Homo sapiens: one gene and its partners. The protein of the gene in region 5 purifies or fractionates together with the protein of the main gene of each other region. This does not show direct contact. Each region holds a gene or a part of one and is shown on either strand. Other genes may lie near its edges.

Region 1 (3,500 bases), on a different chromosome or scaffold from region 5:
CTGGCAACCACTGTCTTACAATGTAGTGCTCATGCCTCCTCTATTCCCTTTAGTCTTGTCTTCCCAAGTTATCCTTCTGAAAAATAGATTTCTTTAGTTATCTTTTTGAGCATGCACAGAATACAAAACTCAAATGATACAAAAGCATGCTCTATTGCAACCAACCTCCGATTTCCCAGGTCCTCTCCCTCTCCTGAGGCTGACTGTTGAATGGCTGAAGGGAGAAGGCAGGGATGACTAAACAAGACGGAGAGGAGGTGGCAGGGGAGGGGACAGAAATGATGGAGGGACAAGCCGGGGACCTCAAAGGGAGCGATCAGGGACAGCACTCACTACCCTGCACCTGCTGCCTCTTTTCTAGGCATCCAGAGAGCTCTCTAGGCCTCCTCGCTCGATTCCTCACTCACCTTCTTTGGAGAGAAGACGCCCACAGTTCCCCCATCCTCCCGGACGGCCACCCCCATCTCAGCCAGCAATGCTTCTCTGTGGGCAGAGGAGAGGCAAATGTCAGTCTTACCTTCACTGCCCGTGACCTCCTTCCCTGTGGGGCCTGACCTCCCCCATGGCCTCCAACTCCACCCAGGACCCCAACTGTCGGCCCTCACACCTCTCCATCCTCAGGGCTTCTGTCTTGCGTAGCTTCTCCTCCCATGTCTCGTTCAGCTCAGCTATAATCTTCTCTGTCTCCTGGGGGCGTAAGGTGGGTAGGTTTCAGGATGGTCTGGGACAAGCAGACCCAGGGTAGGGACAACCTACCCTGGGGCCATGCTACTCCTAGAATTCCTTCTTTCTCAAGCTTGACTTTGGAGAAGTAAACTCCCAGGAATGCCCAGACCCCCAGCCCTTGCCAGCTCCAGCTTCCCACCTGCAGCCTCTCCATGGCTTCCTCAGGCCCAATCTGGGACTCCGTGTTGGGGGAGAATGACGGCTCCAGCTCCCCATTATGTGTGGTGGGTGATGAGGGTGAAACTGGAGCTGGGGGAGATGACACAGCTGGCAGGGCGCCTCTGACACTCCCTTCTTCCGTCTTCAGGCCTGGGAGGGAGAAAGAGGAAAAAGAATGAGGCTAAGGAAAGAAGGAGCTGATGAGAGACATCCAGGAGACCAAGAGCTTCACAGAGGACCAGTCTGTAAGGACTACAGAAGACTGCTGGTCAGCCTCCTACCAGGCAAGGAGCCCTCCTACTGCAGCCATGGTAAATGGGCACCCAGTCTCTCTACTTGAACTCCAGGGGTGGAGAGCTCATTACTGAAGGAGGCGGCCAGTCCTTTCCACTATTAGATGATTTGCACCATCAGAAAATTCTTAGGTGGGGCTAGGTGTGGTGACTCACACCTGTAATCCCAGCACTTTGGGAGGCCCAGGCGGGTGGATCACCTGAGGTCAGGAGTTCGAGACCAGCCTGGCCAACATGGTGAAACCCCGTCTCTACTAAAATACAAAAATTAGCCTGGTGTGGTGGCAGGCACCTGTAATCCTAGCTACTTGGGAGGCTGAGGCAGGAGAATCACTTGAACCCAGGAGGTAGAGGTTGCAGTGAGCCGAGACCACGCCATTGCACTCCAGCCTGGGTGACAGAGCGTGACTGTCTCAAAAAGAGAAAATTCTTAGCTGGGCCGGACACAGTGGCTCATACCTATAATCCCAGCACTTTGGGAGGCCAAGGTGGGAGCATCACCTTAGGTCAGGAGTTCAAGACCAGCCTGGCCAGTCTAGAAACCTCTGTGTCGAACTTTTTTTTCTGAGACGGAGTCTTGCTCTGTCGCTAGGCTGGAGTGCAATGGCTCCATCTTGGCTCACCGCAACCTCCACCTCCTGGGTTCAAGTGATTCTCCTGCCTCAGTCTCCCGAGTAGCTGGGATTACAGGTGCGTGCCACCACACCTAGCTAATTTTTGTATTTTTAGTAGAGACGGGGTTTCACCATGTTGGTCAGGCTGGTCTCGAACTCCTGAACTCAGGTGACCTGCCTGCCTTGGCCTCCCCAAATGCTGGGATTACAGGCGTGAGCCACTGTGCCAGGCTAAAACCCCCGTCTCTACTAAAAATACAAAAATTAGCCAGGTGTGGTGGTGGGCGCCTGTAATCCCAGTTATTCGGGAGGCTGAGGCAGGAGAATCTCTTGAACCCAGAAGGCGGAGGTTGCAGTGAGCCAAGATGGAGCCACTGCACTCCAGCCTAGCGACAGAGCAAGACTCCATCTCAAAAAAAAAAAAAAAGAATTCTTAGCTGTGCTGAGCTGAAACTGGTCCCACGTCATGTGTGCTAGTGTTTCTAGTTCTGCCCTCTGGGATAAAAAGTCCTTACTGCTTTCTCTTCTGCAAGAAAATCCCTCAAATGTTGGAAGGCAAACATCACTAGCTACCTTATCCTTCTCTTTCCAAGAACACTCATACTCCCCACACTGTGCCCTTCAGCACCCTAACTATCCTCAATGGGATGATCTCAAGACTGAATGCAGGGTCCATTCCTGACCGTCAACATGGATTACACATCCTCTGATTTGGACACTATTTCCATCAGTGAGGCTGAGCATGACATACCAGAAAGCACTCCACTGAGATCTGTTAGGCTATGGTCCACTTCAACTCTGACGTTTTGCAAGAACTTCTGTCAAGAAAGTCACCCAGTAGCCTAGCCTCTTAACAATTTACTGTTTGACCTGTAAGCATATATTGCCATTTTTTCCTGTAACAGTCATTTCATTACTTCCAGGAGCCTGACAGGTCCTTCTGGATCCTCATCCTCTCCTAGAGAATTAGTCCCTCCCAGCTCTGTAACATCTGAAGACATACGTTCCCTCTCCACATCTGTGTCCACGTCACTGAGCACATGAAAGGTTTCATAGTGTGTGGTCCCTCCCTGGCTCCAGGACTGGGCAAAGGCAAGTGAGGAGGGATGGGGTGGGCCAAGGGGCATCCCTGAGCTGCCCCTCCCTGGAACCTCGACCTTCCAGAGCAGAGGCTGACAGTCCCTGAGCCATCAGCAGTTCCCGCAGCCGGGCTACTTCCTCCTGCAGCTCTCTAATCAGCCGGGCATTAGGGTCCTCGTTGATGATGGCATTGCAGCGGATTTGCTTGGTGCGGTCAGCATACCTGGGTGACAGAGGAGCAGGGTCGGTGAGGCCTGGGGGCAGGGGACCCTTGGTCTGCTGTTTCTCCTTCCCCCTCTCCCAGGTCTCAAGATATTGTGGCAAGGCTCCGGCATCTCCCCCGTCTCACGAGCAGGGTCCTGAGCAACTCGCCTCTGAACTCCTGGCACTCTTCCTATGCTGCCCCATCCCTGCTAGAGCCAAAAGCCTCACCTGAGGGTGCTGAGAGTCTCCTCGTAATTGATGTCAGCAGGGCTCAGGGCTGCAATCATGGCTGTGCGTGAGTTCCCCCCTGTGAATGGAGTGCATGGAAAAGCTTCAGCTGAGGGAGGGGCTAAGCAAAGTCAGACCGGGTCACAGGGCTGGGGCCCACTGCCCAGGCAGAGGTCTTACAGGGTCATGGTCTGAG
Region 2 (3,500 bases), on a different chromosome or scaffold from region 5:
AACCTTTTTAGATCACAATAGTGTGTCTTATAATATTTATAGCAGTGATTCTCAACCTGGGCTCCTTTTGTTCCCCAGGAGACATCTGGAGATGTCTGGGGACATTTTGGGTTGTCACAACTGGGGTAGGAGTAGGGGTAGTGGTAGGGAACACTACTGGCATCAGGTGGGTAGAGGCCACAGATGCCGCTAAAATCCTAGAATGCACAGGACAGCCCCCAACAACAAAGAATTATCTGGCCAATAGTTCTGCAGTTGAGAAACCCTGTTTTAGAGTCTTAGAATAAAATAATATCTACTTAATAGGCTCATTCTCAGAATTAAAATAAATAATGCATATAAAACGCTTACAAGAATAATGAGCACAAATTACATGTTTAATATACTTAATAGTATTTTTTCTTTTTTTTTTAATCCAATGTGCTTAGGATAATTTAACTACTAAATAAATACCAAATTCCTTCACCTCACCCTTCACATAATTCTGTCCGTTTGTCTTTCAAGCTGGCTCTCTCACTGCTTCATTACATAAACCTCATCCCATCAATCTGGTCTATGTTGTTTCATTAGCACTACCTGGGTTTCACAACTCCATGTCTACACACAAACCATTTCCTCCATCTACCATGCCTACTTTCAATTCAGCCTATAGCTTAAATACCACCTCCACTAGAGAGGTCTTCCTTCACAGACCACTGATGAGGCTGGAAATGGCCTCTCCCCTGCCACCCCACCGCATCCTAACGCCACCAGTCTCCCTCTGAATGTCATATTTCCAATTATATGACTCTTAGCTTATTTCTGAACTCTACTGTGGTTATACATTTATCATACCTCCCCTAGCAAAGCATAAACTCTTAAAAGAAAGGCATAGCTTAAACACATAGGATTTGACACTGTTGAATCAGACCATTCTCCTTGAAATTTTCTCCTTCCAGGGCTTCAGTGTTACTATACTTTCTTCTCTGTCAATGGCATCTCAATTCAGCCTGTCAGTCACCAAATCTCAAAATCTCAGGTAACCTCATCCTTCTTAAAACCTCAGGCGACCTCACCCTCTTACACATTCCCTTTTCATTCAAACCATTTCCCATGTACCCACTTAGAAATACTAGAGATTAAATCTCTGCAACATTTTTTCTATCATTTGCCTCCTTTCCATTTTTTGACTTCTACCCATAGAGAACAGTAGTTACAAGTACAGGCTGAAGTCAAATTCCCTGGGTTCAGATCCCAGCTCCATTAGTTGGGTAACTCTGGAAGAGTTCCTAAGTCCCCGGACACTTTCCTCATCAGTAAAATTGGAATAAGTAACCTTTCCACCTCAAAAGGCTGTCATGAGGATTTAAATGATACAGTATGTGTAAAGTGCTTGACACACAGTGTAGGAGCTCAATAAGTATTAGCAGCTTTATTTATTTATTTATTTATTTATTTATTTATTTATTTATTGAGACAGAGTCTTGCTCTGTTGCCCAGGCTGGAATGCAATGGCACCATCTCGGCTCACTGCAACCTCCACTTCCTGGGTTCAAGCGATTATCCTGCCTCAGCCTCCTGAGTAGTTGGGATTACAGGCACTCGCCACCATGCCCAGCTAATTTTTCTATTTTTAGTAGAGACGGGGTTTCACCATGTTGGTCACGCTGGTCTTGAACTTCTGACCTCAGGTGATCCACCCGCCTTGGTCTCCCAAAGTGCTGGGATTACAGGCATGAGCCACCATGCCCAGCCTATATTAGCAGCTTTATTATCATACCCGCCCCCTACCACTTCAAGACCTCATGAACTTCTTTTTTTTTTTTCTTATTGGTAAATTTTCTGTTGACTACAAAGTCAAAGACACAGGACCTTATCTTTTGCCCAGACTCTTGCAATAATGTCCCAAACTGGCCCCTCTGCTACGGGTCTCTCTTAACCACAATGCTACCCACTGCTCTCAACTATCTTCATATATGCACAAGAGTCAGACCTTATACAGGACTTTGACAGCAAGATTTGTTAAGACAGACAAAGAAATGTAACAAGGTATATTTATGATAGGAAATATTTTATATCACTAAACTAAATGGGATAAAAAGGAGAATAATAGTTGAGAAGATTGAAGTGATAAACTGACACTAGGAAGTGGGCCTTGAATTCCAAATTCAAGAGTTTAGTAAGAGTGTCACAAGAGGTTTTGCATCTACCATTTCCCCCAAAGGATTTAAGAGAACAGAACATTTAAAGAAAATTCTGTAAAATCTTTGCTTAAATGGGTTAAGCTCTTCAAATATAGAAAAGGCACAGATAGTTGAACTACTTCCTCCTTTGGAATTTGGATTATCGATTTAGTGTTTCAAATTCATCTATAAAAATGTATTCTTCATTTAATCAAACCTGTATCTGCATCTTCCACAAAATAAACTATTAAAATTTGGGCTATTTGTAATACTTTTGTAATACTACTGTAAAGAGAAGAAAATGATTCAAGGCTCCTAAGACTTCAAATTAAGTAAATATTCCATATTTGCTTTCTAGGTATTACAACATCAGTGTTTTTTTTTTAAGTTCAATTACTTCATTCTATGCTCACATTTCTAGCTATCATTTTAAATGACTTTTACAACATATGGTTATAAAATTGACTACTTTTTCAGTACATCAAAAGTTAGAAAGTTTCTAATAGAAAACACCAAATCAGTGCCTGAAGACCCTGTAAGTCATTGTTAAAGGAGTGATTTTAGTAAATCATATTGAAAGCTGGGCTGATTTTTTGAACAACTAAATATAATTAGGTAATACCTTTGAAATATGCTATCTATTAACCTTTCCTGCATAAGTGTATCTGCAGCAAATAAAGAATATTTACATCAAAAAAATTCCTAATTTTTTTCTATTCACTCCATATAAATTTGTTTTGAAAGACTGTTGATAAAGAATAAACAAAATGTACAAACATAACATTCTTAATAATGTATTAATATATTGTTACTAAGTCACTCAAGGTCTTCTAAACTTGTTTTTCATCCCATTTGAATATGGTCTTTTCATCCATTCCAACTGCTGCCAAGGCAAATGTAATAGCCAACAATATCATCTATCTGAAAATGAATTAAGATTTGTACAATTTTTAAAGAAAAAATTAGACTTCAATATGTACTATGTGCACATTTTTCACACCTGCAGATAAAACGGTTACTCTGCAGAACGGTATAGAGTAATAAGCAAAGGCTTCAGAGTCAGACATGCAGAACACATCACTTGCCAGATGTTTAATCTTGTGCAAATTAATCTGTGAGCCAGTTACCTTATCTGCAAAATGAGAACAGTATCTACAGGGTTGCTGCAGGAATAAATGAAGTAATGTATTCAGAGTGCTGGGTATCTAACAGCAGTGTTCCACCTCCACCAATACCTTTACCCTTTTGAGTCAGACCTCAAATCAAAACTCACTTCTGCCACTTACTAACACTGTGATAGTAGGAAAGTTAACCTCTCTATGCACTGATTTCCTCCTA
Region 3 (3,500 bases), on a different chromosome or scaffold from region 5:
ACACGAGGCTTAAAATGAAATTATTTTAAAGTATGCTCTAATTATATAGATAGATAGGGCCAGGTTTCCTAAAACATTTTCCCTAAACTGTTCATTTGAGGCTTTTATGGTAAGATCTGAGTATGACAGTTAGGTAAATCTTTTATGTCCTAAATCTTTATATAAAGAGCAGTTTTTAAATTAGTAACAATAATAAAAGATATGAACTTTTTTTTCTGTTTCTAGTTTCATTCATAAAATGAACACAGCAGAATTTAAGAGTGCAACGTTTCCAAATGCAGGACCAAGACATCTGTTAGATGATAGCGTCATGGAGCCCCATGCGCCATCTCGAGGCCAAGCTGAAAGTTCTACTCTTTCTAGTGGAATATCAATAGGTGAGAAATACTTCTCTGAGAGGGTTGCAATTTAACTTTAAATAAAAATGTTAATAAAACTTGGCTGGAAAAAAACCCCACCCACACACAGAGAAAATTTGGTTAAAAAAACAAAGTAGCAGTTAAATATGGGATGAAGTTAATAATTTGTGATGGTTTTAAAAGTGCTTGCTGTTTTTAACTCCAGAAGGGGAAGCATTTGAAGAAGGTGGAAAAAGAACATATGGGCTGGTTGAATTAGTTAACTGCATGTGATTTGGATATGGGGAGGAGGAAGAGTGTGGAGTCAAGAATGACTTCCGGTTATTTGGGTTAAACAAGTATAATAGTTAGATGATGATGCTATTACCAAGGTAGAGAAGACAGAGTAATAATCTGTGGGCAGTGAAGCGTTTGTGAATTTGGGGAATCAGGTGTGTTTTGGACATGTTTAGTCCCTATGGAGATGTCAGGTAGGTTGTTGAATATGTGAATCTGGAGCTCGGGGATAAGGTCAGATCTGAAGATATACGAGAGGTAGCATATTTATAAGCCATGATTGGTTGAGGGTACCTAAAGAGAGAGTGTACATAAATAAAAAAACATTCTCACATTTAGAAGTCTGATTATTTTTTAAAAGAAGGATGAGTCATCAAAGGAAACTAAAAAGGAGAGATCAGTGAAGTAAGGGGAAAAAAACAAAAGCCCAGTAGATGAAGTATCTCAAGGAGGAGGAAAGTACTGAATGTGTGAATATCAAATGCAGAACAAGAGAGCTAAGATGAGAATGGGGAATTGACTGGGGGATTTGGCAAGATAAAAGTCATTGGTGACCTTGATAAGAGTTGCTTCATGGAAGTGTCAGGGCATGGCCTGGATTGGAGTAGATTTGAAAATGAGAGGTGAGGAAACAGAGATAGCTACTGTGAAGGAGAGCAGAAAATAGAGACCATATTAGAAAGGGATGTGAGATTAAGAGAGGGATTTGTTTGTTTTTACTTCCTAAACTTTTAATTTTTGAGTCTTCTAGATGAGCATTATTTCTTGTTACAATTAGAAATTATTCATATAGCCTGGGCAGTGTGGCTCACACCTGTAATCCCAGCACTTTGGGAGGCCCAGATGGGCAGATCTCTTGAGGTCAGGAGTTCAAAATGAGCCTGGCCAACATGGCAAAACCCCATCTCTACTAAAAATACAAAAAGTAGCAGGGCGTGGTGGTGCATGCCTGTAATCCCAGCTACTTAGGAGGCTGAGGCATAGGAATCATTTGAACCCAGGAAACAGAGGTTGCAGCGAGCCATGTTCGCAGCACTGCACTACCCTGCCTGGATCACAGAGCGAGATTCTGTCTCAAAAAAAGAAAGAAATTGTTCATATAATAGCTACTTTTATTTTTAAAAAGAAATAAAGGAGGAATATGTCTTCATCTATGATTAACTACCAGATTGTTCAAGGACTAAGCCTATTGTTACTAATATCTTAATATTGGTAAACAGCCAGTAGAAGGAGATGCAAAAGGAGATTGATTTTCTGGAACATACTGACTTTCTTAGCCCTTGAGAGTTAAAATTAAATTATTTCAGAGCTCTCCATTACCATTCAGTAGTTGTTTATTCTGATAGTCCCCTTTTTATATAAAAATACAAGTGATTAAATGATAAAATGTTTTAAAAAGAAGGCAAGTTTGTCACCTGAAATACCTCTTATCAATGTTCTAAGTTGCCTATATGCAAATACTAATCTCAGTATGAAGAATAATTTTGCAAAAGAAAGAACTTTTTTTCAGTCAAAAATTTTCTACACGTCCATGGAATTTGGCATGCCACTTAAAGCAAAAAGTTTTTAAAATTACAGCTCTCAAGTATATAATATTTTACTCTTTCTCATAAGTGTTATAATGAGAATTATTCTGTAGTTTATAGCTTTTACTTTTCATGGATGTCCTTTTGGCTACCAAAAGATTATTGTTTAGTTATTTTATTGAGTTACAGTTAGTGTCTCAGTGTGGAGACTTTTCTCTTTTAGAGCAGATTTTTGCATTTGTGTTTATTTTTTAATTATTCTAAGGCTAAGTAAGTAAACAGTAAAAGATCATTGCATCCTAGTTTGTAAACTAAGAACATTACACATAGGCATTTACCTTCGAGGATTTTTGTTTTAAAGCTTTAACAATATGAAAAAAAGAATAAGTCTATTACCATAAGATGATAGGTGTTAATATACACACACGAGTTTTTCCCTCAGCTTTAACTTTTACATGCAATATTAATCTACAGTGAAGGCTTTGAAAATACTGTGGGAAAATTAACCAGTGCTTAGAACAATGGCCTTAAACATTTTCTAATGTGGTATCTATCCTAGATAATCTTGAGTAGTCTCACCTAGCTAACTAAGAGAAGCATATTCACTCTGAGCTTCATGCTTACATTTTCTACAAATAAGTTATCCTAATTATGCTTAAATTTTCAGTCTTTACCACATAGTGCCACAAATCAAAGGATAATGTAGATAATGTACAAGACCCCACCACCACCACGGGTTACCTCTGGTTCTTCTGAACCATACAATACAGAAAATTATTTCAGTGATTGTTATCTCAGTTTATCCAAGGATGGTACATAACTAGTGCCATTGCAAACCCGTAGAAGGGTATTAATCCATCGTCTCTAAGAGAGACGAGTCTAATGGATACCTTACAGCATCCATTACAGGTGTCTGATGGATACCTTACAGCATTAGAATTTGAGTCTCTCAGAACCCTGCCCGTAAAAAAGAGTTTGAGTCTCTCTTCTTAGAACCCTGTCTGATAGACAATTTAACTTGACCTATTAATCATCCTAATTTTTTTGAGAGCCAGAATTACCTTTAAAGTAACATTTAAGTAAACTAAGCTGTTTTGGACTCTCTAAATTCATTCCCCATAGTTTTTTTGTTGGTTTTTTTTCCCCCTAGCTAATTGTAAACGTTCTGTTTGAAGACCATTTTATTTTAACTGATCTTTTGGCCAAAGAGAAAATTGTTGCATTTTTATAGCACCGGTTTTTGGTTTTTTAAATTTAGAGATTCCATCTTCTTTGTCTCTAGAGACAAATAAGTGGATTTCATTAGGCTTTTTATACTTAGGGTAGTAATGGACTTTAA
Region 4 (3,500 bases), on a different chromosome or scaffold from region 5:
GCTCTGTTTCACTTTTTTTTCTTTAGGAAGGGTTTGCTTTAAGATATTCAGCTTTGTTTTTCAAGAAATAGTTATTTCTTGTGAAAATAAGAAAAATAAAAATCAGCAACCTCAGGAGGCAAATTATATTTCTGGTGGAATGGAAAAGCTACATGCTCAGAAGATGCCATGGGATGGCCTATCTGTTGGTTTTACAAGTGTATTTTTAAAAGACTACCTAGTTCACTTCATGACAAAGAACAGTGGCAACCAACACTCCATTTTCTAACTGGAGGAGAGAATTCAGAGACTTCCATATGGCTTAATTATACCAATATGTATTAGGAAGGCAATTTTTCTTGTCTATTGTGAACTGCCTGACTTGAACGCTGACAGCTGTATAATTTTAATTTGATCGTGTTATTTTTCTCTTAAAGTCAAGCAAAAGATGCTGAAATCCAGGTTTGCTAGATTTTTCTAAGTGGAATCCTGTAAGAATCCAGAAATATTTAATATCTTTCACTTTAAAATTGGCAACTTCTCATCTGCTATTTCACTCAAATTGTTATTCCTTCTCAGAAAATATCTGTGATTTTATTTTAAATAAGGAGAGCAAAATGTTTAGCAGGGGGTGTGATTTTAAGCACCCTCCATCTACTTGCCCCTTAAACTAACTGGCTTTCTGCAGATCCATTTATTAATTGATAGAACTTTAGACAAACATACACTGAAAACCTACCAATAATTAGAAACAGCTATAATGAACTGTGAGGAAAAGAACTGAATCCTTACCATATAATTTTCAATGATTCACTGTGGTAGGGAGGTAAATGATACAGGCACTGAAATCAGCTTCGCATAGTCAGAAATAGAATCCTTACAGAAGATGAGGAAGATGATACCCTGGAATGCTCTTTTCAAATAAATGATTTTGTTTTGGATAAATCAAACTGGCAAGGTTTCTACAAGGTTAAAAGCTCATTAATTTAGATGCCACAAATTCTGAACTCTTGATAATAAGGCCTGGTTTAAGCTAAACAGAATATTTAGAAAAAAAGCCTTTCTAGAATCTCAGTTTGCTGCATGTAGTTACTTAAGATATATTAATTATAAACGGTTCTTGGTATTTTTAAAAGCAGATTCCAAAGGGCCTCTGCTTGGCTGTATGTATATTAGCCTAGTTGGCAATTCTGTGTCTTCTTGGAAATAATACATGCTTTAAAATCATAGCCATGCTTTATTTACCCAGCATTGTTGAGGACTGGAATGTTCTACTCAGCAGGGTTATCTAGATGACAGACAGACAGAGCTAGAGGCTAAAACAGTGATGGAAAGTTATCACAGGAAGGGAACTTAACAGAACTCAATGTTCCTCAAATTCTTTCAGTAAAATCTTTGGGTTTCATTTGAAAATTCACCTCGATTTTACATTCTACTGAAAAATATTTGTGTTCATTTTCATATAAAAATATCTTCTCACTCCAAAATCTTTGGGTACACTGAGCGACCAGGAAGGTGTCTTGTTTGTATTCTGTGGTTTGACATCTTCATGAACCTCCGGTTGAGCAGCTGGTACAAATTCTTCACTTCTCCAGGAACAGATACAGAGAAGTAAAAGGATTTACCCAGATTTGTTAGAGAGAGCCAGGATTGGAATGTAAGCTTCTGGACAGCCAAGAGAGTGCTCCACGACAAGCCCACACTTACTCCCTCTGAGGAAGTGCTTTCAAACCTCCTACTCCTGAGGTGCCTGCTAAAAGGGACCATTCACATGGGTCACATGGCCTAAGAGATGATGAGGCTATTTCTACTCGATATGGGCCATGTAACATTGGTTGGCATCAAAGAGCTTGAATGAAATAACAAGTGTTGATACCCAAAGCCAACTTCAAGCTGACACATGAAAATGTTCCAAAGACTTTTTTTTTTTTTGAGACGGAGTCTCACTCTGTTGCCCAGGCTGGAGTGCAGTGGCGCGATCTCGGCTCACTGCAACCTCTGCCTCCTGGGTTCAAGCAATTCTCCTGCCTCAGCCTCCCCAGAAGCTGGAACTACAGGGGCCCGCCATCTCGCCTGGCTAATTTTTTGTATTTTTAGTAGAGACAGGGTTTCACTGTGTTAGCCAGGATGGTCTCGATCTCCTGACTTCATGATCCGCCTGCCTCAGCCTTCCAAATTGCTGGGATTACAGGCATGAGCCAACACGCCCGGCCTGTTTCAAAGACTTCTGAACAGTTTAGTGGATAAAAATTGAGAAATATAAGACATTTGAACTTTGGAAGCACAATGGAAAAACAGCAATAATCAACAATCCCCAGCCCAAAATTTAAAAGGAAGGTGATACAGAAAACATCAAATGGGAGAAGGAAGTTTCCTCTTCTTGGAGCCTGAATCAGATTACTGGCCAGGGCAGCTTCCAAGAAAGCAGATCTGGGCAAAGGACAGGAAAGATCAAACACGTGCCAATCATTCTCTCGATTTCTAATAGTATTGATCCACCAGTCACTGAGTACCTACTATGTGCTAGGCACTTTGCCTTTGCTGAGGATCAAGGCTGAAGATGTCCCGGGCTCAGCCCTCCAGAAACTCAAAGTCTGGTGGGAGCCACAGCCAGTGATTTGAGTCTCCTACTTGCGAAGTACAGGGTGCTACTGGTAGCACTTAGGAAAGGCACTTTAGTCCTGGGAGGTCCAGGGAGCCTTCTCAGAAAAAAGAAAAGCAGGAATTCATCAGATGGAGGGAAAGGGGAATGTGTGAGAGGAGCAGCATGTGCAGAGCGGAGGGGCAGAGCATGCTGTTCTGGGGAGTGGTGAGTAGCTCCAAAGGAGTGAGGTAGGCATGGGGTGCAGACTGGTAGATGAGACTGAGAGACAGGAGGCCAAACCTGAAGCCCCCATGCAGTAAGCTATGCTTGCAAGTCTGAACTTTCCTCTAAATGCTTTTAAGCACAATAAATGACATAATCAGATTCTTGTCTTAGAAAGGTCAGCTGCAGTGGACAATAGGGATGCTGATTAATTGAGGCTTGAAATAGACCTTCTGAAAGAAATTTCTATCACTTGACCTACTTGGATTTTTCTTCTTCTCAGCTGAAGCTTGCAAATTCTTTTTTTTTTTTTTTTTTTTTTACAGAGAGGAAAGAGGATGAACACAGACATTTAATGGACATGCATCACGCTTCCTCCCTGCCTATGCTAGACATTTTACTTAATAGGATTTTAAGTGGATGTCAAGCAACTTCCCACTGCACTGTTTAACAATTTGGTCTAATTCCAAGTGCTTTTTGTACTATATCATACAGATTCCTTTCAACAGTTATTACATTTTAATTACCGGGTATGGAAACCTCTCTGAGAGGAGTAACACATATTTCTACCTTCCTAAACATACCTACTGACCACAGTTTAATATTTGTTTTGAACAATCAGGGTCCTTGTTATGACTACTTATTACTATTTTAGTTTTAAAATGAATAACAACTCTTTTATTTCATCAAATAGTGTGTCAATGTTCCAATTTAC
Region 5 (3,500 bases):
ATATCTTAGACTAATTAAAAAAGGGGAAACTATAGAAGTTGAACTTTTGTTTTATAAAATAAACATCCATTCACCAAATATGTCTGTCATTACCCTACCTGCCTAGACAAATGAGATGAGCAAAAGAAATAAAATAACAGGGAGCAGGTGGGGTACAGTGACTCACACCTGCAATCCCAGCATTTTGGGAGGCCAAGGTGGGTGCATTACTTGAGGCCAGGAGTTCAAGACCAGCCTGGGCAACATGAGGAAACTCGTCCCTACTAAAAATACAAAAATTAGCCAGGCGTGGTGGCATGTGCCTGTAGTCATAGCTACTCGGGAGGCTGAGGCATGAGAATTGCTGGAACTGGGGAGGCAGGTGTTGTAGTGAGCCAAGATTGTGCCACTGCACTTCAACCTGGGTGACAGAGCGAGACTATCTCAAAAAAACAAACAAATGAACAAACAACAATGAGCAGAGCTCTGGTGTGTCATGCTAGCCAGGTTTATACCCCTGTGGCTGAAGAGCTACATCATCTTATATTAACATGTAATACTCATTTATTGGTACAAACCTTCAAGCCATATAGCCATATTTAGTTCCAAAGCTGGCCTGAGTCTTTATCCCTTCTATGGCATTTTTGGGGCAGTTTTGAATTCCTAGCCTAGACAGCTCCCCAAGGTCTGCAAGGCAGGGCAGCAGGCACATTCAGACACAAACACTATTTGCCTGTTGACACATTTGTCTATTTGGTCATTTCATCTGTCTTCTAATATGTGCCTGAAACAAATAAGGTACTCAAATATTTGTTGACTGAGTTATCTATAGTAGTAGAATCTTCGAAACTATCTGCCCAGCCCTAACTACCACCACCTCCTTTTTAAAGAACTGCCCATTTTCAGGGGTGGGTCCTGGCAGCCATAATCACCTGTGGAGAAGGTGGACATCTGAGACAAACTGAACCTATTGGAGTCTCTCTCCCAAAAATTCAAAATTGGAATTGAAGCCACAGTTGATGTGGTCTGGTTGCTTGTTGGTGGCATGGAGAAGTCACCCGTGCCCTGGTGAAAGACTGAAAGAATGGCCACTTTGTTGCTGAATAGCTTTCTAGTTCAGGGTTCCAGTCCCTTGTAAAATCCAAGTTATTCCTATACTTGGGTTCTATAAGACAGTTGGTATCTAATCACCATTTCCTTCCCCCCACCACCCCAAAGTTAGCTCAAAGGCATTTCTATGAGTTGCAACCAAGGGCAGTAAGTAGCTAAAAGGAGTAGGATGGTTATTCTAGTACTTTACATGTTCTAAGCCTGATATGAAATAGAAGCCATAGAGGAGATTAGGTATGACCACCCAAATATTAAATTTTGCATTGCAAAGAAAAAAAATGAAGTTAAAAAATGAACATGTTAGAAAAAATATCACAACATAATAGGCCAAGGGTGAACAGCCTTAAAATATAAAGAGCTCTTATAAATATGAAACATTATCTCAACAGAAAAATGAATATAAACAGGAAAACCGTAAAAAGATCTCTAAATGGGTCAGGTGCGGTGGCTCACTCCTGTAATCCCAGCACTTTGGGAGGCCGAGGTGGGCGGATCACCTGAGGTTGGGAGCTTGAGACCAGCCTGACCAACATGGAGAAACCCCATCTGTACTAAAAATACAAAATTAGCCAGGCATGGTGGCGCATGCCTGTAATCCCAGCTACTCAGGAGGCAGAGGCAGGAGAACTGCTTGCACCCGGGAGGCGGAGGTTGCAGTGAGCCAAGATTGTGCCATTGCACTCCAGCCTGCAGGACAGAGCAAGACTCTGTCTCAAAAAACAACAACAACAACAAAAAGATATTTAAATGGCTAATAAATATCTATAACATATAAGTATATACATCTGTTTATTCATTTTCTTCAATAATCAAACAGATTACAATGAAGTATATTTCATCTATCAGATCACTGACAAATATTAAAGGCTTAATACTAAAGTGGTAGACACTGCTGGCTGCAGTGTGAATTGATACAACCAATCTGATATGTATCACAGTTGTGAATGTGCATAGCTTCTAACCAAGCTTTCCATGTCTAGAAATTAATCATAAGGAAACAACTGAATGAGCTGAAGAAAACATATGAAGATATTCACTAAAAGCCTAAAAGTAAATCTAAATGTTCAATGGGAGATTCATGAATGGGAAGCCCTTCAATGGAATATTAGGCAGTCGACATATAAGAATATATGTTGGAGGCCGGGTGCGGTGGCTCACGCCTGTCATCCCTACATTTTGGGAGGCTGAGGCAGGTGGATCACCTGAGGTCAGGAGTTTAAGACCAGTGTGGCCAACATGAGGAAACCTCATCTCTACTAAAAATACAAAAAAATTACCTGGGTGTGGTGGTGGGCGCCTGTAATCCCAGCTTCTCAGGAGGCTGAGGCAGGAGAATCACTTGAACCCAGGAGGCAGAGGTTGCAGTAAGCCGAGATCGTACCACTGCACTCCAGCCTGGGCAACAAGAGCGAAACTCCGTCTCAAAAAAAAAAAAAGAAAAGAAAAAGAAAAAAGAAAATAATATACGTTGAAGAGGGGACCATTTTATATTCTTAAGTGAAGGAGACATGTTATAAGACATGTAAACATATGATCAGCTTTTATTTTTTTTAAAAAAATACCTATATAAAAAATCTGAGAGACCAAATCTAAAATACTAACAGTGGCTAATGAATTAACAAACATTTTTCACTCTGTTCTTCATATCTTTTACTAGTCTATATTATCTGAATTTCCTATAATGAGTATCTCATGGTTAAAAATGTTTTAAGTATTTCATTAGACACAGTGAAAAACCACCAAAGGTAGGCGTTCCACAGAACTGGATATGAATCCAAGATCTGCCACTTAAAAAGCTTTGTTACTTTGAACAAATAACTTACCTACGTTGCATTCATCTCATTAAATCCTTATACATAAAGTGCTTAATAGAGAACCTACACACAGGACTAGCTCAACAAATGACTATTGCATTTAGCAATTTTTAATGCCTCTAATAAAGTATAAATAGGGATAATCCTATCACTATATGGTATATGGGAGATGGGCCAAACAAATCAAATGCTATACCGTTCTTAAGCTAATAATTTGCAAAGTATCTACTGTAGTACCAAACTGGAAAGCTAGTGAAAACCACTTATCTAAAAAAACAACTTGGGAAAGGCTCCTCAACTCTTTGCCATAACATTATGTTGTATAATTAGGTTCAATCCTGCATCTTTTGCACCATAATTAAGGGCATCTGCTCTCCTTACATGGTCAGTAGGAAACACAGTCAATTATGGAGGGTCACAGAAGTAATGCAGATAAGTCAGAATGAAAATCACAGTTAAATAACTGCAGTCCCACCTACTCTCTCCCCCTTCTCCCCCATCTGCAAGGATGACAAAGATTCTCTCCTCCACCAAACTTGAGTCAGGCCTCTCTTCTCTACTAAGTCACAACGTTGGCGCCAATCCTGTTCCTTAAGC
Region 6 (3,500 bases), on a different chromosome or scaffold from region 5:
GCATGTAAAATATAACTCCATAAAAAAAAAAATACCATGAAGGGAGAGTACATGAAGGTATGGCTAGTAAGGCTGGTTGTTTAAAAAAAATACAGTGTGAGGCTGGGTGCGGTGGCTCACGCCTGTAATCCCGGCACTTTGGGAGGCCAAGGAGGGCGGATCACAAGGTCAGGAGATCAAGACCAACCTGGTTAACACGGTGAAACCATGTTTCACGGTGAAACACTGAGTACGTGTATTTTTTTTGTAAAAATACAAAAAAAATTAGCCGGGCGTGGTGGTGGGCGCCTGTAGTCCCAGCAACTCGGGAGGCTGAGGCAGGAGAACGGCGTGAACCCAGGAGGCGGAGCTTGCAGTGAGCCGAGATCACGCCACTGCATTCCACCCTGGGTGACAGAGTGAGACTCCGTCTCAAAAAAAAAAAAAAAAAAAAAAATATATATATATATATAGTGTGGCCATGGGATCTCCAACTGCATGCAAGAGCAACCTGGAGAGACTTTGACAGAACAGGTCAGCACAATCCCTGCAGCTGCCACTTGTCTTTCGTGTGTGTGTGTGTGTGTGTGTGTGTGTGTATAAAACCAAAATGTGTGACACAATAAATGCTGGCACAGCTCTGATTTCTTTTAAAAAGAAAATTAAAATAGGAGTTCTGGTTCTAATTATTAGCTATTAGCTACTTCTGAAATTCAGAAAGTACCATAATTAGGCTAAAGGGTTATATAATATGTAGTGAATCTTCAATGTAATACCATATACTCTGCTATTTTTCTTTTGCTAATTAGTTTTGTTACATTAGTAACCAGGCCATGCCAACACAAGTATTCCAGTCCATGTGATGATATTTCTCAATGTAAATTAATAAACTGAAATTCTAATGGTAAACATTTTTTCATAAATGTAGTTAGAGACCCCTCTGAAAGACAAAGCAGCTTTTGCCATGCTGACCAAATTAGATTTCTGAGCCTGCAAAAATCATCCTGGAGTTTCACAAATCCACCTAAATGCTGCTACCCATGACGTCTCTTGGGAGTCGGCCAGCAGCCTCTGGCTATACCCCAACCTGGGTTCTGAGAGCACTTTCCATTAGAAACCTCTATGCTCAATGAGGAGACTGGTGCTGCTGTGCTGGAAAGAGATCAAGCTGAGCAGGCAGGATGAGGCCTGGAAACCAAGCACACAGGAGATAGCCCCACTAGCAAGAAGGCCCTCATGGAGAGGTAAGGCAGGTGTTCATCACCCCTACCTACCATTCTGCCCCCCAATTCCCAAATACCTTCTTGAGCACCTCAACCTGGCGAGTATCTCCAGCACTAGCTCGGGCCTGCTCTAATTCCCTCTGCAAGACCTCTATCTTCTCTCCAAGCTCCTCTTCCATCTCCTCCTTCTCCATTCGCAGCTGCAGGAGTCTGAGCCAGGCAAGGTGAAATAAAGGGGAAAGGGAACAGAGTAAGGCCACATGCCTGGGGGAGGTTAGCATGACAATAAAAGCCACCTCTCTGGAGGCCAACACGCTGGGCACCAACTCTCAAGAGGAAGGAAGGTGAACGTGGAAAAGAGCAGTTTGAGAAATGGGAGAGTAAGAGCATACCATAGATAGAAAGGAAGTGGGCCAGGCATGGTGGCTCATGCCTGTAATCCCAGCAATTTGGGAGGCCAAGGCAGATGGATCACTTGAGCCCAGGAGTTCAAGACCAGCCTGGGCAACATAATGAAACCCCGTCTCTACAAAAAATACAAAAATTAGCCAAGTGTGGTGGTGCATGCCTATAGTCCCACCTATTCGGGAGGCTGAGGTGGGAGGATGGCTTGAGCCCAGGAGGTGGAGGTTGCAGTGAGCCCAGACTGTGCCACTGCACTCCAGCCTGGGCAACAGAGCAAGACCCTGTCTCAAAAAAAAGAAGAAAGGGACTGGGTGCAGTGGCTCACGCCTGTAATCCCAGCGTTTTGGGGGGCCGAGGTGGGAGGATCACGAAGTCAGGAGTTCAAGACCAGCCTGGCCAATATGGTGAAACCCCGTCTCTACTAAAAATACAAAAAACCCAGGCCTAGTGGCAGGCGCCTATAATCCCAGCTACTCGGGAGGCTGAGGCAGGAGAATCGCTTGAACCCAGGAGGCGGAGGCTGCAGTGAGCCAAGACTGCACCACTGCACTCTAGCCTGGGCAACAGAGTGTGACTCCATCTCAAAAAAAAAAAAAAAGGAGAAAGGGGGCCAGGCGCAGCGGCTCACACCCGTAATCCCAGTGCTTTGGGAGGCAAGGTGGACAGATCACCTGAGGTCAGGAGTTCGAGACTGGCCTGGCCAACATGGTAAAACCTCATCTCTACTAAAAATACAAAAATTAGCTGGGCGTAGTGGCATGCGCCTGTAATCCCAGCTACTTGGGAGGCTGAGGCAGGAGAATCTGTTCAACTCAGGAGGCAGAGGTTGCAGTGAGCCAAGATCGTGCCATGACACTCCAGCCTGGGAAACAAGAGCGAAACTCTGTCCCAAAAAATAAATTAAAATTAAAATTAAAATTAAAAATTAAAAAAAAGAAAGGAAGTGGCATATGAATCATGGGTATTTCTGAGAGGGCCAATGTCCTTACTCCTGCTTGGTGGCTCTAAGATCCTCCTTGTTCTTCTGGAACATACTCTGCCAATGCCCTGTCTCCTCTGAAGTCTCCTCCAGCTCCCTCTGCAGCCCTCGCACAAGGGCTGACATCTTCTGCCTCTCGGCCTCCAGCACTGCATGGTCCTAGAGAAGGGGAGAGTTGGACACCAGAAGGCTCAGAGGGAAGAGGTCACTTCAAATCAAAGTGTGAGTGTGTACAAGGAAAGGCTTAGACCCAGAGGGCACCATGCCAGGTGCACCCCCTGACACTCTTGTGGTACCTGGTACAATGCTAGCAGAGATTCTCTCCTCAAGTCACAGTCCACCCCTCTATCATCTACAGGAAACCTCCCCAGTTATTTCCCCTTGGGACTTTTTATTTTTAGGGGGACAGAGTCTCGCTGTGTTGCCCAGGGTGAAGTGCAATGGCATGATCTCGGCTCACTGCAACCTCCGCTTCCTTGGTTCAAGCGATTCTCCTGCCTTAGCCTCCCAAGTAGCTAGGACTACAAGTACGCATCACTACACCCAGCTAAGTTTTTGTATTTTTGGCAGAGATGGGGTTTCTCCATGTTACCCAGGCTGGTCTCTAACTTCCTGAGCTCAAGCAGTCCACCCGCCTCAGCCTCCCAAAGTGCTGGGATTACATGCATGAGCTACCGCACCCAGTCCCCCTTGGGACTTTTGTCACACAACCTCAAGGTACTTCTGGCCTGTACTCCCTCCCTCTGCCCCTATAGTTTTCCTGCCCAAGGTTTTCAGCAGATCTCACTGTGTCCTTTAGGAGGAGAGGGGGAGTTCCCAGTTGCAACCATGAAAAGTCCAAAAGTCCAAGATCCCAAGGCAGCCTTGTTCTCCAGCAGTGCCCTCCTCTCTCAGACCCTGCTCTTGTCACATGC
Region 7 (3,500 bases), on a different chromosome or scaffold from region 5:
TGCAGAGATGGGGGTCTCGCTCTGTTGCCCAGGCTGGTCTCAAAGTCCTGAGCTCAGGTGATCATCCTGCCTCGGCCTCCCAAAGTGCTGGGATTACAGGCGTGTGCCACCGCGCCCGGCCCTTCCTCCTGTCTTGAGCCCATCTCCTACCTCCAGGCCTCAGGCCAGAGGGAGGAACAGATGTGAGGGTGCCCAGGGAGAAGGGAGGGCTTCCTGGAGGAGCAGCTCTAAGGGGTGATGTTGGGGGCTGAAGAAGGACATGTATTCTGGGCCGAAGGAAGTGGATGTGCCAGGCCTGGAGTTGACATTGAATGTGGGGTTGTGTGTCTGGACGCGGAGAACCACGGGGAACCGGGAGCTGCGGCCAAGGGGTGCTGGGGAGCCCTGAGGGTGGGCAGTGGGGGTGCCGCACCTTCAGCAGCAGCTCCACGACGTCCATGTGCACCAGCCCCAGCACTGACTCCCCGTTGATGTGGGTGATGAGGTCCCCAGCCCGCAGGCCCGCCTCCTGGGCGGGGCTTCCGTCCTCCACACTCTGGGGGCAGACGAGAACGGTGGGGTCAATGGCCTGGGCCCCACATCTGGGGACCCCAGCCCAGGCTGGGTCTGCTGTGGGACCCCAGCAAGCTGCTGCCTCTTGTGCTGTCTCAGTTTCCCTGATCCTGGGGGAACTCCTACTCACCCATCAAAGCCCCAGCTCCTACGCCCCCTTCTCCAGAAAGCCTTCTGTGTCTGTTCAGGGAGCAACCAATAGGGAGGGCATGCCTCGACGCCCTTGGGCTGGGAGAGGGAGGATAACATGCCCAGTGCGTCCCCATATGGAGCTGGGAGGTTAATGCCACTTGGGATCTGTGAGCTTCCATCCATCCATCCTTGTCTCTCTCATCTGACCTCCTCCCTGCCAAATGACAGGGACCGAGATGAACTCGGTGGCACCAGCTCTATCTACCTAACCCTGCCAGGCTCCAAAATGCAGCTCTGAGAAGGGACATGACCGGGCAGAGTCAAACTAGAACCCGGGTCCCTGCCATTCCCACTCGGCACTCACCCAGACGACGTGGTGCACAGTGTAGACGTCGCTATCACCCATGTAGACGCGGATCGCCCGCAGGCTGAAGCCGTACTTCTTGCCAGAGCTGTGGATAACGATGGGGGGCCGCAGGCTGCCACACACGGGGGACGGGTCTCGGCTCGGCGAAGAGTCACGGGACGACGGGTTCGAGGACAGAGAGCGCGGGGAAAGGGGGCTCATGAGGGGGCCGCCGCTGCCATCATCTGCAGGGGGTTAGGGAGGGGGTCACTCACTCCCTCACAGGTCTCCCCTGGGGCCCCCTCTTTCCCACCACAACGACCACCCTGGCCACTTTGCTGTTGCTTCAATGTCCCAAGCATGGTCACCCCACCAGGCCTTTGCACGTGCAGTGCCCTCTACTGGGAACACCATCTCCCCAGCTCTCCATGTGTCCTACTCCTCCTCCCCTCTTCTGGGGCTCATCCCCAGCCTCCCCAACTCAGGAAGGGCCCCCACCCTGTTGGTGAAAATGGGTGCAGACAGACAAAGGTGAGAGGGGCCTTGGGCATTACCTGCCGTGATGATGAGGGACAGGGCAGAGACAGAGGCTGACTTGGGCACGCGGCCCCCACTGCCGCCACCACTGCCACCGCTGGAGGAGGCTCTGGACTTCTCAGGGGCTGGGTCTCTTGGGCCCCCAAGGCGGCGGCCCCGGCCGGCATCCAGAGGCCTTGGTGTGGAGTGTCGGGCGCCGATGCTATTGCTCCGTAGGCGGGCGTGGCTGAGAGCAGCTGTGTCGGCTAGAGGGTCAGCAGGGTCAGCTGGGTGCCCCTCAAACTCACCATGTGGTCCTAAAGGGACCTTAAGGCCCTTCCTCCCTGGTCACTATTTACACAGTCCAGCCTCCTGGCCTTTGCTCATGCAGTTCCCTCTTCCTGCACTCCCTTCCCAAATTATTCTCTATGCAAAAGTCTTCAAGTCCCCTCCTCCAGGAAGCCTTCCTCCACACCCATTTAGACCCTTAGTTCCCCCATCTTGGGAGCTAGGGGTCCCATCCTGACTCTATGAAGCTGGGGGCATTTACCCTAGACTGGGGTTCCTTGGGGGCTGGGGGTCTCTCTGGGACCCTGGCTTCTCCTCTCTTAAAGCCTTTGTTGGCTCTGGAGAACTCCTACTCATCCTTGAAAACCCATCTCAAATAGCCCCTCCTCTGGGAAACTTCCATGACATCATCCCTCTTACTCAGGGCCCCACTTACCAGAAAGGCTCGAGGGCTTGGGCATCACTGGGGTGGCCGCTGGTGGGGGGTCAGGCTCCCCTAGAATGAAGACGGGCCTCTTGGGGCCTGCAGGGCCTGGGCCTACCCCCTCATCCTCTGATGAGAAGGCAAACTTGGGCATTGTGTCCAGGCTGATGGTATTCAGGAGAGATGGGCTGGGACCCCGCTCGGGCTGGGACGAAGATGACTGACAGGAGGATCCAGAGGATGTCCAGGACCTCAGCCTGCAGGGAGGAAGAGCCTGCATCACCCCTGCCAGGCACCTGCACCCCAGGATACTCAGCCACCTTCATGGCCACATCTTAACTCTCAGTCTGCAGTCAAGGGTAATTTGCATAGACAGGACGAGTTCCTTCTGTCTGCACTGTCCTCTCTGTCCACCTGGAGACCGCTTATTCACCTTTTTTTTTAAAGACAGGGTCTCACTCTGTCACCCAGGCTGAAGTGCAGTGGTGCAATCTCAGCTCACTACAACCACTGCCTCCAGGGCTCAAGTGAGTCTCCTGCCTCAGCCTCCCAAGTAGCTGGGATTATGGGTGCCTGCCGCCACACTGGGCTAATTTTTGTATTTTTAGTAGAGACGGGGTTACACCATGTTGGCCAGACTGGTCTTGAATTCCTGAGCTCAAGTGACCTGCCTGCCTTGGGGTCCCAAAGTGCTGGGATTACAGGCGTGAGCCACTGCACCCGGCTTCCTATTCAACTTTTAAAACCCAGCTTCCAGGCTGGGTGCAGTGGCTGACACCTATAATTCCAGCACTTTGGGAGGCTGAGACAGGAGGATTGTTTGAGGCCAGGAGTTCGAGACCAGGGCGGGCAACATAAGGAGACCCCATCTCTGCAATTTTTTGTTTTTTGTTTTGTTTTTTTTTTTTGAGACAGAGTCTCGCTCTGTCACCCCGGCCGGAGTGCAGTGGCACGATCTTGGCTCACTGTAACCTCCGCCTCCCAGGGTCAAGCAATTCTCGTGCCTAAGCCTCCCAAGTAGCTGGGATTACAGGCGTGCACCACTATGCCCGGCTAAATTTTTGGAGTTTTAGTAGAGATGGGGTTTTGCCATGTTGACCAGGCTGGTCTTGAACTCCTGACCTCAGGTAATCCACCTGCCTCGGCTTCCCAAAGTGTTGGGATTACAGGTGTAAGTCACTGCACCTGGCCTACAAAAAATTGCTTAAAAAATTAGCCGGGTGCCGTGGTGCACGCCTGTAG

What was found.
Region 1: the proteins of PPM1H (region 5) and KIF1C purify together in Homo sapiens (affinity purification with mass spectrometry, with the first as the bait; one large-scale study listed by BioGRID). This does not show direct contact.
Region 2: the proteins of PPM1H (region 5) and CAMSAP2 purify together in Homo sapiens (affinity purification with mass spectrometry, with the first as the bait; one large-scale study listed by BioGRID). This does not show direct contact.
Region 3: the proteins of PPM1H (region 5) and RALGPS2 purify together in Homo sapiens (affinity purification with mass spectrometry, with the first as the bait; one large-scale study listed by BioGRID). This does not show direct contact.
Region 4: the proteins of PPM1H (region 5) and SIPA1L1 purify together in Homo sapiens (affinity purification with mass spectrometry, with the first as the bait; one large-scale study listed by BioGRID). This does not show direct contact.
Region 6: the proteins of PPM1H (region 5) and CGN purify together in Homo sapiens (affinity purification with mass spectrometry, with the first as the bait; one large-scale study listed by BioGRID). This does not show direct contact.
Region 7: the proteins of PPM1H (region 5) and MAST3 purify together in Homo sapiens (affinity purification with mass spectrometry, with the first as the bait; one large-scale study listed by BioGRID). This does not show direct contact.

What each region holds. Positions count from the first base shown.
Region 1 is NC_000017.11:5,004,450-5,007,949, reverse strand, and holds part of KIF1C (kinesin-like protein KIF1C), read right to left. Parts: intron 3,384-3,500; coding exon 3,305-3,383; intron 3,096-3,304; coding exon 2,950-3,095; intron 1,036-2,949; coding exon 866-1,035; intron 688-865; coding exon 608-687; intron 484-607; coding exon 408-483; intron 1-407. UniProt on the Homo sapiens protein: Motor required for the retrograde transport of Golgi vesicles to the endoplasmic reticulum. Has a microtubule plus end-directed motility.
Region 2 is NC_000001.11:200,741,893-200,745,392, reverse strand, and holds part of CAMSAP2 (calmodulin-regulated spectrin-associated protein 2), read right to left. Parts: intron 1-3,500. UniProt on the Homo sapiens protein: Key microtubule-organizing protein that specifically binds the minus-end of non-centrosomal microtubules and regulates their dynamics and organization.
Region 3 is NC_000001.11:178,885,744-178,889,243, forward strand, and holds part of RALGPS2 (ras-specific guanine nucleotide-releasing factor RalGPS2), read left to right. Parts: intron 1-225; coding exon 226-377; intron 378-3,500. UniProt on the Homo sapiens protein: Guanine nucleotide exchange factor for the small GTPase RALA. May be involved in cytoskeletal organization. May also be involved in the stimulation of transcription in a Ras-independent fashion.
Region 4 is NC_000014.9:71,666,476-71,669,975, reverse strand, and holds part of SIPA1L1 (signal-induced proliferation-associated 1-like protein 1), read right to left. Parts: intron 1-3,500.
Region 5 is NC_000012.12:62,925,151-62,928,650, forward strand, and holds part of PPM1H (protein phosphatase 1H), read right to left. Parts: intron 1-3,500. UniProt on the Homo sapiens protein: Dephosphorylates CDKN1B at 'Thr-187', thus removing a signal for proteasomal degradation.
Region 6 is NC_000001.11:151,524,887-151,528,386, reverse strand, and holds part of CGN (cingulin), read right to left. Parts: intron 2,746-3,500; coding exon 2,597-2,745; intron 1,413-2,596; coding exon 1,280-1,412; intron 557-1,279; exon of another isoform or gene 449-556; intron 1-448. UniProt on the Homo sapiens protein: Probably plays a role in the formation and regulation of the tight junction (TJ) paracellular permeability barrier.
Region 7 is NC_000019.10:18,142,778-18,146,277, reverse strand, and holds part of MAST3 (microtubule-associated serine/threonine-protein kinase 3), read right to left. Parts: intron 2,618-3,500; exon of another isoform or gene 2,516-2,617; coding exon 2,271-2,515; intron 1,813-2,270; coding exon 1,585-1,812; intron 1,276-1,584; coding exon 1,049-1,275; intron 536-1,048; coding exon 413-535; intron 1-412.